Linked DNA regions of Homo sapiens. The protein of the gene in region 1 purifies or fractionates together with the protein of each later gene. This does not show direct contact. Each region holds a gene or a part of one and is shown on either strand. Other genes may lie near its edges. The genes, in order: GCHFR, PUSL1 and HBS1L.

The links.
Region 2: the proteins of GCHFR (region 1) and PUSL1 purify together in Homo sapiens (affinity purification with mass spectrometry; 2 studies listed by BioGRID and IntAct, with this or other methods). This does not show direct contact.
Region 3: the proteins of GCHFR (region 1) and HBS1L purify together in Homo sapiens (affinity purification with mass spectrometry; 2 studies listed by BioGRID and IntAct, with this or other methods). This does not show direct contact.

What each region holds. Positions count from the first base shown.
Region 1 is NC_000015.10:40,762,422-40,766,168, reverse strand, and holds the start of GCHFR (GTP cyclohydrolase 1 feedback regulatory protein), read right to left. Parts: upstream 2,102-3,747; 5' UTR 1,989-2,101; coding exon 1,953-1,988; intron 1,009-1,952; exon of another isoform or gene 343-1,008; coding exon 248-342; exon of another isoform or gene 1-247. UniProt on the Homo sapiens protein: Mediates tetrahydrobiopterin inhibition of GTP cyclohydrolase 1. This inhibition is reversed by L-phenylalanine.
Region 2 is NC_000001.11:1,306,968-1,310,714, reverse strand, and holds the start of PUSL1 (tRNA pseudouridine synthase-like 1), read right to left. Parts: upstream 2,119-3,747; 5' UTR 2,072-2,118; coding exon 1,995-2,071; intron 1,801-1,994; coding exon 1,743-1,800; intron 1,630-1,742; coding exon 1,442-1,629; intron 1,262-1,441; coding exon 1,112-1,261; intron 1,035-1,111; coding exon 864-1,034; intron 82-863; coding exon 27-81; intron 1-26. Other genes in the region: ACAP3 (arf-GAP with coiled-coil, ANK repeat and PH domain-containing protein 3), read left to right, coding at 2,900-2,946.
Region 3 is NC_000006.12:134,981,744-134,985,390, forward strand, and holds part of HBS1L (HBS1-like protein), read right to left. Parts: coding exon 3,598-3,647; intron 820-3,597; coding exon 715-819; intron 1-714. UniProt on the Homo sapiens protein: GTPase component of the Pelota-HBS1L complex, a complex that recognizes stalled ribosomes and triggers the No-Go Decay (NGD) pathway.

The DNA.
Region 1 (3,747 bases):
GGAACGGACTCTGTTTCTGCGGTTCCAGTAAGGATGTGGAAAGCTTTCAGAGCAAGCCTCGTGGGGGAGAGGGGGGATGTTGGAGAGGCTACAGATGGGACCAACTCCTCCGGAGAACAGAGCCCCAGGATGCAGGCAGGGGGCTCTGATGCTGGGCCCTGTCCCTGGGCTTGGAGGTTGTATAAAGGGAGCAGAGGCAGGTCTAGGGGCTGGCAGGGAGAGGATACTGAGGGAGGCTGCTACTTACAAGTTGTTTCCCAAGGCTCTTCTCTTTGAAGCCCCCAGATGCTGCATCAGCTCTGGATCCGACTGTTCATCGCCCACCATAGTGGGGCCCACCTCCTGCAAGGTAAGCCACAGTGGCTGCTTGGCTGGCTGCCAGGAGGAGGTGGAAGGTCTTGCCTGTCCTTCCTCCCCTGCCTGCTAGCCCTGAGTAAGGTTCAGGTAAAGGCTACAGAGAGTAGCAAGGATTCTTAGGGGCTGAGCACAAGCTGTGAAGGGGTGGAGCCCATCAATGATCAGGAGGAGCAATGTAGGCGCCCTCCCTAGTGCCTTAAAGCTCAGCTTTAGCCAGGCAAAGTATCACGAGCCTATAGTTCCAGCTACTGAGGCTGAGGTGGGAGGATCGCTTGAGGTGGGAGGAGTTTGAGGCTGCAGTGAGCCATGATTGCACCACTGCACTCCAGCCTGGGTGACAGAGTGAGACTCCATTTCAAAAAAACAAAACAAAATAAACATGTAAATGAAAGAAGCCAGACTCAGATCACATTACCACAGAAAGGTAATTAGTGGTTATCTAGGGCTGAGGGACTTGGGGGAAATCAAGAGTGTCTGCCAGTGGGTACAGGGTTTCCTTTTGGGGTATTAGAAATGTTCTAAAACTGATTATGGTGATGGTTGCACAACTCTGAGTACACTAAAGAAACAACAACACTGAATTGTACACTTTAAATCAAAGAATTTATGGTATGCACATTACATATCAATAAAGCCATATCTTTTAAGAAATAAGAATCACTTTGGGGGGCCATTTCCAAGTATGGGTTCCCAAGCCCCAGACAGAGTTTTAGGAGGTCTGGGAAGGGACCCAGGAATCCACATTTTGGCAGCTGAGCAGATGGCTGCTTCACAAACCGCTGCCCAGGGCTCTGCAAGAGCTCTCTGTTGCGTGGTGAACCCACCAAGGGGGTTGTGTACCCTTTGCTGGTTCACCCCAGCACTGGGCAGTGAGCAAGGGCAGAGAGCACCTTGCTGCCCGTCATGTCTTTCTGAAGCTAAAAGGGGACTCCTGAGGGGCAATCAGAACCTTTTTACAGATAAGGAAACTGCGCCCAGAGAAAGGAACGTGACTTCTAACTCATGGTGTTCCCACCTCTAACTGCACAGCCCCTTCTCGCCTTCCTTTTTTCCAAGCAGGGTGTTCTTTCTTTTCTTCCTTCCCTAAAGCTTCAGGGATAGCCCTTCCTGGAAGTGCCTAAGGGTGCAGCTAGTTGCTGTTTATGGGTCAAGGACTTGGCACCGGGGTTTTAGCGCCTTGGCAGGTCCTTATCTTTTCCAAACCTCTTTCTCTCAGGTTATTCGCCCTTTTTTCCCCTGCGGAGCGGCTCTGTGCAGGGCACTAGGTGCTGCGCGTGAGGCCAGGGCTCCCTGGGTCTCTCCCGCCGACAGGTAGGACAGGAGCCGGAAGCGCCCGGAGGTCGCCCTGTTGCCGGGACGCACGTACCCGGGCCCCTTCGCGGCAATAAAGGCTTCAGGCCGGCCAGAGCTCGCTGAGTCCCGGAAGCCGAGCTGAGCCCGCTTCTCCACTCCCTCTCCCCGGCCAAGGGGGCGTGTCTGGGCGGGTTCCCGGTCCAGTCCCCGGTGGGTGCAGCCCAGGAGGGAGGCATGAAGGTGCAGTCGCAGCCCCCTAGGGCCTGGTCCCGGCTCCAAGTCGCCAGGCGGCCGGTACTCACCATGCGGATCTGGGTGCTGATGAGCAGGTAGGGCATGGTGCACGCGTCCCGGCCTGGCTCCCACCGGGGGCTCTAGGCTGGACGCCGACTCCAGCCCTTCTCGCGTCGGGACTGCGACGCGCAGCTGGGAGTCCCGTTACTCCGGCTCTGGCCACAGGCGGCGTCAATCCCGGGGCACCTTGCCCGTGACCGCCGTGGCCGCCAATCAGGAGCGGCTGCCGTGACGCGCCCTGCAGTCGGCGGTTCGGGGCCCGCCCCCGCCCTCCCGGCGGCGGACTTGGACCCCGGGGCCCACCTGAGGCTTCCGCCGAGTGATCCAGTTGCGGGAAGGTGGAGTGCGGGGAGGAGGGGGCGGTCCCACGACCTGGAAGGACACTATCCTGAAGCTCCAGCGTCCTCCAGGACGCTTAGTGCTGTTTTCTTTGCAGCCTGTGATCTTACTGCGTCCCCGCGCGCGTGTTGCCCCCGCGCCCGCTTCTTGAACACTTCAGGCCAGGTTCCAAAGTCCCCTGCCAGGCAGAGCCCAGAGCAAACGGCGTCCTCACGGAGGCCTCTCCAGGCCCCAGCCCACCCCTCTCAGAGACGCCTCGACAGCTTCAACGGGGCCCCACTTCCCCTCGCCAAGACATGCGCTCCAGAGATTCCTTAAGCGCTGAGGAGGCCGGGGCACGAGGCTCGGAGCTAGCCCTGAAGGCGACAACTAAAATACCACCCAGGGCGCACTGTGCATTCCCCCTCCCAGACTCTAATTCCAGCACAGAGGCGGATCCTTGCATTTCTGTGGACCCGCAGGAAAGTCTGTAAAGGAACCGCGCGCTTGGCTGGGTGCCAGGTCTGGAGTGACTGAATGGATGGAACCTGGCCTTCCCTCCCCTGAGCTTCCCGCGCAGCTGGACAGACGCGGCGCACGCGCAGGAGGTCACTGGGCAACACCTGGGGCAAATGAAACAACTTCCCCCGCACCAGCCACCAATGAGCGGCTGCGAGTTCCCAACCGTGTGTCCACGCCCCTCATCCGCAGTTATCAAAATCTGACAACTCATCCTTCTTTATCTGCCTTGTTGTGATTGGTTTTCTTTTTTCTTTTCTTTTTTTTTTTTTTTTTTGGACATGGAGTTTCGCTCTTATTGTCCAGGCCGGAGCGCAATGGCGCGATCTCCGCTCACCGCAATCTCCGCCTCCCAGGTTCAAGCGATTATCCTGCCTCAGCCTCCTGAGTAGCTGGGATTACAGGCCTGCGCCACGACGCCCGGCTAATTTTGTATTTTTAGTAGAGACGGCGTTTCTCCATTTTGGTCAGGCTGGTGGCGAACTCCCGACCTCAGGTGATCCACCCGCCTTGGCCTCCCAAAGAGCTGGGATTACAGGCGTGAGCCACCGCATCCGGCCTGTGATTGGTTTTCTAGAAAATAAAGCAAAACAAAAACAGCCTGTAGGTAGCCTTCCCTCCCATGGGAGGGTAATAATCTTCACTTTTTAAGAGGGGCCTTTATAGGGGATGCTGCCGTTCCAACACTTTGACAGACGTGGAGAGAGCTATAAGGGAAGCAGGAAGTTGTAATCCTAAACGTTCCTTAACTGGTCTAATTTATTATTCTGTAGTTCCTACCCCTGCCCTCTTACCCACTGACCTAACAAGTTAGCCAGAGAGATAAAACACATTCATGCTTAACAAAGGATGTGTTAAAACTGACGAAAGGGCCGGGCGCGGTGGCTCACGCTGCTAATCCCAGAACTTTGGGAGGCCGAGGCGGGCGGATCACGAGGTCAGGAAATCGAGACCATCCTGGCTTAA
Region 2 (3,747 bases), on another chromosome or scaffold:
GGGGACGGCCCCAGAACAGAGCCTACCTGTCTATACAGGAAAGACTGGCTCTCAAACTCCAGGTTCCAGAACCGCAGCTTCCTGGAAAAATACGTACCTGTAGGTGTCTGTGGGGCAGTGTTTGCCATCCTCAGCCTACTATGTGGCCTTGGACGGGAGAGTGACAGGGTGGGCCTAAAGACGAGCCTGGTTCCCACTAGCTTGGCCACCAGGGGCCCTGGCTGATCTCCTGCCCCCAGTGAGGCCCATTGGAGGGGCTTAAAACCAGAGAAACAATGCTTGGGCAAGGAGGCAGCAGGACCCTGGAGGCTGGGCAGGTAGCCTGGCCATCCCAGAGGGGCTTGCCCTGGGCCCTCACCTAGGGTCCTGGTGCAGGGTCTGGGAACGTGGCTGGTGCGGGTGCCAGAGACCCCCAGTCCTGTACCTGCTGCTCTGCCACAGAAGTCTGGGGCTGGCAGAAGTTCTTCCCCCCTTCAGGGCTCACCCCAATAGGGGAGGTTCTGGTCAGAAGCTGCCACCTGGTGGGTGGCCCTCGGGACAGTGCTGGGGGCAGCAGAAACCACCCCACCAGAACCACTGGCACCAGTGAGACCTTTCCAGTAGCTGCCAACATTCTTCCATCAGGCATGGCAGGGGTTTTTCAGAGACAAGCAGCCTTCCCTGTTCTCCGCTCCCCAGCCTGGGGGGAGGGCACAGCTGGAGGCTGGGGGGCGTCCGGGCGAATCCCCTCCAGCTGTCCAGGTCCTGAGGACTCCCGGCTGCCTGCCTCCCGCCTCACCTTGCCTTAAAACTGGGGGAGGTGCTGGAGCTAAAATCAGCACGTGACTTGAGGGCAGGGCCACAGCCCAGGGGCCCTTCCTCACCTGCTCTCCTCGGGGGTGACCAAGGGGCTGGCTTGGCCTGGGGAAACGGAGACCCGGCGCAGCGTTCGCACGGGGCTCGGCACCGGGCTGCCAGCGGACTGGAAGGCGCTGAAGTCGTGTGTGCCGAGGAGGTGCTGGGCGGCTTCCTGCATGGCGACCATATCCAGGCAGCTTCAGGGACCAGGGTGACCGTCAGGAGGGTGGGGCCGGCCTGCCCGCCCCCTCCCCGCTGTCAGGGCCACACTCACTCTGCCGGGAGAGTCCAGCATAGGTTGCGTTCAAACACCGGCAGCTCATCACGCCGGTGACAGCCAGTGGCCAGGCGGTACAGGTAGGTCCGGGACGTGGCTGCGTGACGAGCGTGGAAGTCGCTGGGCACTCGGAAGGCCCGCAGGACCCTATGGCGGCAGGTAAAGCTCACCGGAGGAACGACCCCGCCCGCCCGCGGTGTCACATTGGCTCTCCTTCCCCCTCGAGCTCCGACCAGACAAGGAAGTCTGTCCAGATCTCCAGCCTCCGCCCGCGACAGATGGAGTCGGGAAGGCACAGCCCCAGGGCTGCTTAGGTCGCGGGCTCACCTGATGGCCGGGTGCCGCAGGTGTGTGTTGAGGGCCTCGGCCAGGACCTCGGGCGGGAAGGGCGGCCGGCCTGAGCGGCGCTGGACGTCCAGGTGCGCCGCGTTGCTCAGGGCGTGGACCCCGGCGTCCGTGCGGCTGGAGATGGTGAACCTGACCGGCTCCACGGAATTCAGCCGCTCGGCGGCCTCCTGCAGGACCGAGCCGCGGGGCGGGCGGGTGAGCGAGGCCGGACCCCGGGGACGCGCGGGCGGGAGCCTCCCCCTTACCCCTCACCGGGCGTCCCGTGACCGGCTGAGCGCACCTCCAGGTAGTTCTGGACCCCGACGGCGCGCTGAGTGCCCCTGACGGCCGCGACCCCGCTGCGGGCAGAAGCGGGCGGAGGTTACCGGGGGCGCCCTGCCCTGGGGTCTCCGCCGCCGTCTGAGGCCAGGGCCGCTTCCTTCCCCGAACGTTTGGAACCCGCGTCCAGAGACATCCGCCTGCCCGCCCGCGCCCTCCTTCCCGCCTCCGCCCGGGCCCACGTGGCGCCCGCCGCTGCGCCTGGGAAACCTACTTAAAGTCGGTGCCCACGTACTGGAAGTACACAAGATAGCGCGCGCGCACGGAGCCTGAGGCCGGCGCCGAACTCATGGCGGAGCCCAGCCGGTGGCGTCAGAGGCGGCCTCCAGCGCAGGAATCCTGCGCGCGCGCGGACGCGGCCTGGTCACGCCCCCCCCCCCTCCCCCCCGGCCCCGGCCGCTCTTGCGCCTGCGCGGTGGCACCGCGCCACGGCGGCCAGAGTCGGGGAGCGGAGGCGGGGCCGGGCTTAGGGAGCGGCTGCAAAGTGCCGGCCCGCCGCCGAGCGCAGGCGCTCTACCTCTATCGCGGCGCCCCGGGAGGCGCGCACCAACCACGCGGTCACCCCGCGCTCTCGCGGGCGTGCATTCGTTCACTCGCTCATTCATTCGCCGCCGCCCACACTCCCCGAGCGCGCCCGTTCGCCGCGTTGCGGCCAAGTCCTCCCAGACGTGGTTTTTGCAAACGCCCTGAGTTGCGCAACGGCCGGGATGGTTGGAGCGGGCGGGCCCGCGCCCTCCCCGCGCCCTCCCCGCGCCCCACATTTCCACCGACTGTCCCCGGAGACGGCCGTGGCAGGCCCCGCCTCACTTCCGGACCGGGGTGGTCCCTGGACGCTGCGAGAGGCGTTTGGCGACGCTCCCCGGCGGTGACAGCGGGCGGCGCGCGCGGGCGGCGGACCTTGGCGACGCTCCCCGGCAGTGACAGCGGGCGGTGCGCGCGGGCGGCTGACTTTGGCGACGCTCCCCGGCGGTGACAGGCGGGGCGGGGCGCGGCGCGGCGGCCTCATTCCGGGGCGGGCGGGCGCCGAGGCGGCGCGGGCGGGACGAGCGGTCCGGGCCGGCGCGGCTGCCGCTCGGCGCCGCGGTCCTCGTGCCAGTGAGCGCCGCGGCCGCCGCAGCCATGACCGTGGAGTTCGAGGAGTGCGTCAAGGACTCCCCGCGCTTCAGGTGCGCCGCCCGGGGCCGCCGGGGTGGGCGCAGGCCGGGGGCGTCGCTGTCGCCTTTGTGCCCGGCGGCGGGGTGGGGAGGTCAGCGCCGGGCCGGGCCGCGGCCGCCGGGGAGGGGCTGGAGGACCGGCCTCGGACAAAGCGGCGGCCCCGCCCCGCCATGCCCCGGGGGTTGGAACAAAAGACGCTCCTGCCCTGTGCGGCCGCCCCGGGTGGAGGGCGTGCGCGTGGGCAGCCGTGGGCACCTCGGGACCGTCCGCCCCCGCTCTGTGTCTGCACCTCCACTGGGCTGAGCCCCTCCCGGGCCCTGCAGTCCAGCTCTGGCCAGGGTCGTCTGGGTCCGTGGGGGCGTCGGCCCCTGGTCTCTGACTTGATCCTGTGTCCAGAGCAGCGCGTGGGGAACAGGCAGCTGGAGCCGCGTTTAAGGCCTGGGGTAGGGTGCTTGGAAACGTGAAGTGGTTTGAATGACCCAGGGGCTTGGAGGGGTGGCGGCCGAGAAGAGCGGCGGGGAAGGTCAGGTAGGGGGTAGGGGTTGTGTGCACACCGAGTCTGCATGTTTTCCATCATTCGTGGCGTGCAGGCGTGTACACCTGCGTGAACTACATGTTCACAGACGTGTGCACAAGTGTGCATCGGCTTTGCTTGGTGGACATTTGGCAAACGACAATGGAGGCAAAGAAACCTCTCTGCATCCCCAAGTGCGCACCTGCGTGAGGCCCCCTCCTCTGCACGAGCTCGTGCGGGGTGCGCTCTTGTGAACTTTGCCCCTCTGCGTGCCTCCCTCCGGACACCAGGCCTTGCA
Region 3 (3,647 bases), on another chromosome or scaffold:
TATAGAATTAGAAAGTTTTAGTCAAAATCTGGAAAATAATATACATGTACATGTAACATATAACATGTATACATATACATAAATATATATATGTGTGTATATATTAGAAGACAGAAACAATTATCAGTCATTATGAAAAAAATTAGATCTATATGCAGAAACAGTGACTGGCAATTTAAACTAGTTCAATTTCTCTTTTCAACATTGGGTTTTTCTCCATTTGAATGTTACTTATATCTTCCTATAAAATATACCTACATTTTTGGCATAAACATGATCAAAGCTGTTAATTTATAGTTATTCTGAAACATACATTTCAAAGTAACAGACTGTAGAAGGCTGCTTTGCCACTGACTAGTTAGGGTAAGGCTGGGACTAGATTTAATTTCTGCTACAGAATATTATTCCAAATACATCTGTGAGGTATCTATACATATCTGATTAAATCCTAACCAGGCTTCTCAGATCTGTGTCAAAAATAGAATGCTACTACAGTTAGAATGTTTATGTACATATATATACAGACACAATCACAACAGAAAAAAATCGTTTAATGTTTTCACATTTTAATCTTCAACAGTCAGTATCATTTTGACAGTCAGTTACAATTTCAGTAAGAGGTTACTTACTTTGGAGTTGTAACTAAACCACTTTTTAAAAATCTGCTGTCTCAACTTAAGGCTTGTTTAGCAAAAGCATCTTGCAGATAAATACCTTTCACGGTACAAGTTTCATTAGGAGGCATTGCCAGTAGTCGGTCACCAGTTTGGATATAACCAGCTTCTATTTTACCAGTTATGCAAAATCCAGATCCTTGATCTGCAAAACATACCAAAATCTTATGGTTCATACAGCAATGTTATCTGATGATTAATACCGTTAACTATACTTAGTTCTCAAGTAGTCATATAAAACTAGTAGTTCAATGGACATTAAATAATAATCATTTCAGAATTAACATCTCTACTAAATATGGCATACCACACTTTACTTTTTTTTTTTGCAAATAAAAATACTCATATTACCAAAGAAAGGTTCATTCCTTTCTCAAATATTTATTGAGAAATAATAAATACGTAGTACCAGATATTATACTAAACTCTGGGGATAAAAAAAAATAAAAATGTAAGTCCCTGCCCATAAAGATATTATACTAGTGAAGAGAAAGATGGAAACAATTACATTGTCCTGAGACAAATAATATGTAAAATATACAATAGAAACACAAAGGTGCACCAAAGAATCCATGATGGTGAGAATAGACATCTGGCACTCTGAAGAAGGAATAAGTGTTTATTAGGTAGCTTGTATGCATGAGTAGGGAGAAAAAGGAAGACACTGCTGCCCCAGGAAACTGTGTGGGCAAAGGCATAACCAAATGTGGGATGGGCTAAGAGTCATGTGTCACTTGTGGGGGCCATGGGGAGGGGACCATATAGAATAATGAAGAAAAGGTAAGACAGGAGGCAACAGAGATAGGCAAGGGAGAAATAATAAAGGGGTCTCATAAATCACGCTTAGGGTTTAAATTTCATCCTGCAGTTAAGTAATAGGAAGCCAGTAAATATTGTGACCGGAGAAGTAAGGTGATGGTATTTCTGTCTTAGAGTAGAGGCTGATACAAATGCACAAACTTACTACAGAAAGGGAATAAACTCAAGAATTCGGGAATAAGGAATAACAAGTTTGGAGTGGTAAGGAAAGTGAAGACTAATGACAGAAAGGGGAAAATGTGAGATGATGATGCATTAACTGTGAGATATGAAACTAAGGACAAGATCCATTTTAGGCTTGGTAAATCTGAAGTGTCTATGAGACACACACATGCAGAAGTTGCATTCCGGGGGGACCAATCACACCACATTCCATGAGAATGGTACCCCTAAAAGAACACTCTCCCAGGAGAGATGTCCAGTAGTGCTTAGACAAGTGTGTGGAGAATGAGTGAAAAGGTTTGGGTTGGAGATACAGATTTGGGAAGCATCAAGATGCAGAAGGTAGAGACACTCATGGATGTCAGTTCAAAAGGAACTTGAAGACTAAGAAGAGGACTGAGGCAGCAGAACACTGTTTAAAAGACAGAGAATGAGGAGCCCATAGAGAAGATATAGAGAGGTCAGAGATAGACAGGTCAGAGAAATAGACAGGTTAACAGGAGAAAGCAGGTCACAGAAACCAAGGGAGGAGTTTCAAGGTGGATGTGGCTACCAGCATCAGAACCAATGCCAAATTCAAGTAAGATAGAATTGAAAGTGTATATTGACTTTGGCAACCAAGAGGTCATTTCATGACCTCAGGAGGAACACACTCAGGAGAGCAGCGTAGGCGGAAGCCAGGAAGCAGCCTGAAGGGGGAACAGAAGGTGAGAAAGTACAGTCAGCAAACACTGTTAATCAAAGAAAAGTAACCACCTCTTGTATTCTTGATAAACAATGGGCATCTTGGAAACTATTAGCATATTTCCTCTATTACTAGAACACTGGAAGCTAATAATGATAATGATAAATTTTGATTTCATTGCATGATTTTTTCAAAGCACCTTCATTCATTCATTTTTTTATTCATGTGTTAAATGTATTATGTGCCAGGCACTGGGCTAGGGCCGCAGATATAGATAAAGAAGAGATAGTACTTGCCTTCAAGGAGTTCATAATCTAAGTGGGATAAACAGACAGCATAGAAAAAATTATAATGCTGCATGAAAGCACAATGACAGAGGATACAGAGAATACAGAGGGACGCGTCAGGGCATGTGCGCAGGTAAGCACGCCGGTTACCAATTTACTGCTGCTCAGTTCCACATTCACTCTGCATTGCTGGCTCTGTGACAATGGAGATTTAGAGGACAAATGACATCCTTACAGTTTTTATTATTGTAATAATAAATCTTATATCCTTTTATTTATTGAGTTTTTAAATTGTATTTCCACTTTATAGTCTTCTATATAGGATCTTGCCCTTATTAAGTTAGATATATTCTTAGGTATTTAATATATCATCTCTTCCAGCAAGCTCTGAACCTCTTCTACGTTGGTCCTTCCTCAGCCCTATCTATAAAGTTTCTGTATATCTTTTAGTTGCATTTTTATCATAGTTAATAATTCTTTATATTACATTTCCCATTTCACCTATGTATGGTATCTAACTCCTAACTGGACCCAGACTGTTACAGATGGGGAGGAAATGGACAAGTAAAGAGAAAGAACAATACAACAGGGAAGCACGGGTAGACATGTGGCAATAAACACATCCTGTGTGGTTAAGAAACAATAAACAATCCAGTTTGGTTGAAGGATTTGAAAACTAAAGGAATCTAATGGGAGAAAAAAAAACTATAAAGTTAGAAAGACAAAAGGCAAGGTTTTCTTATGCTTGAAAGATGAGAAATGGTGAGTAAACTGAAGGTTTTCCTGGACAGGGAAGCTAAGTGACTAAATCTGTGCATTTTAAGATTAATCTGACAGTGATCCTTACTTGGGCATGGAGAGGAGAGACTCTGAAGGCAATATACTGTCATAACTTAGTCCAGGAAAGGAGGTTAGGAGGGAATGGGGAAAAGGGGCTATACTGAAGAAGCACTACAAAGGTAGCACTTACCTTTGAAAACATCGGACACACATAATCTAAAAGGTTTGTCAATAGATCGC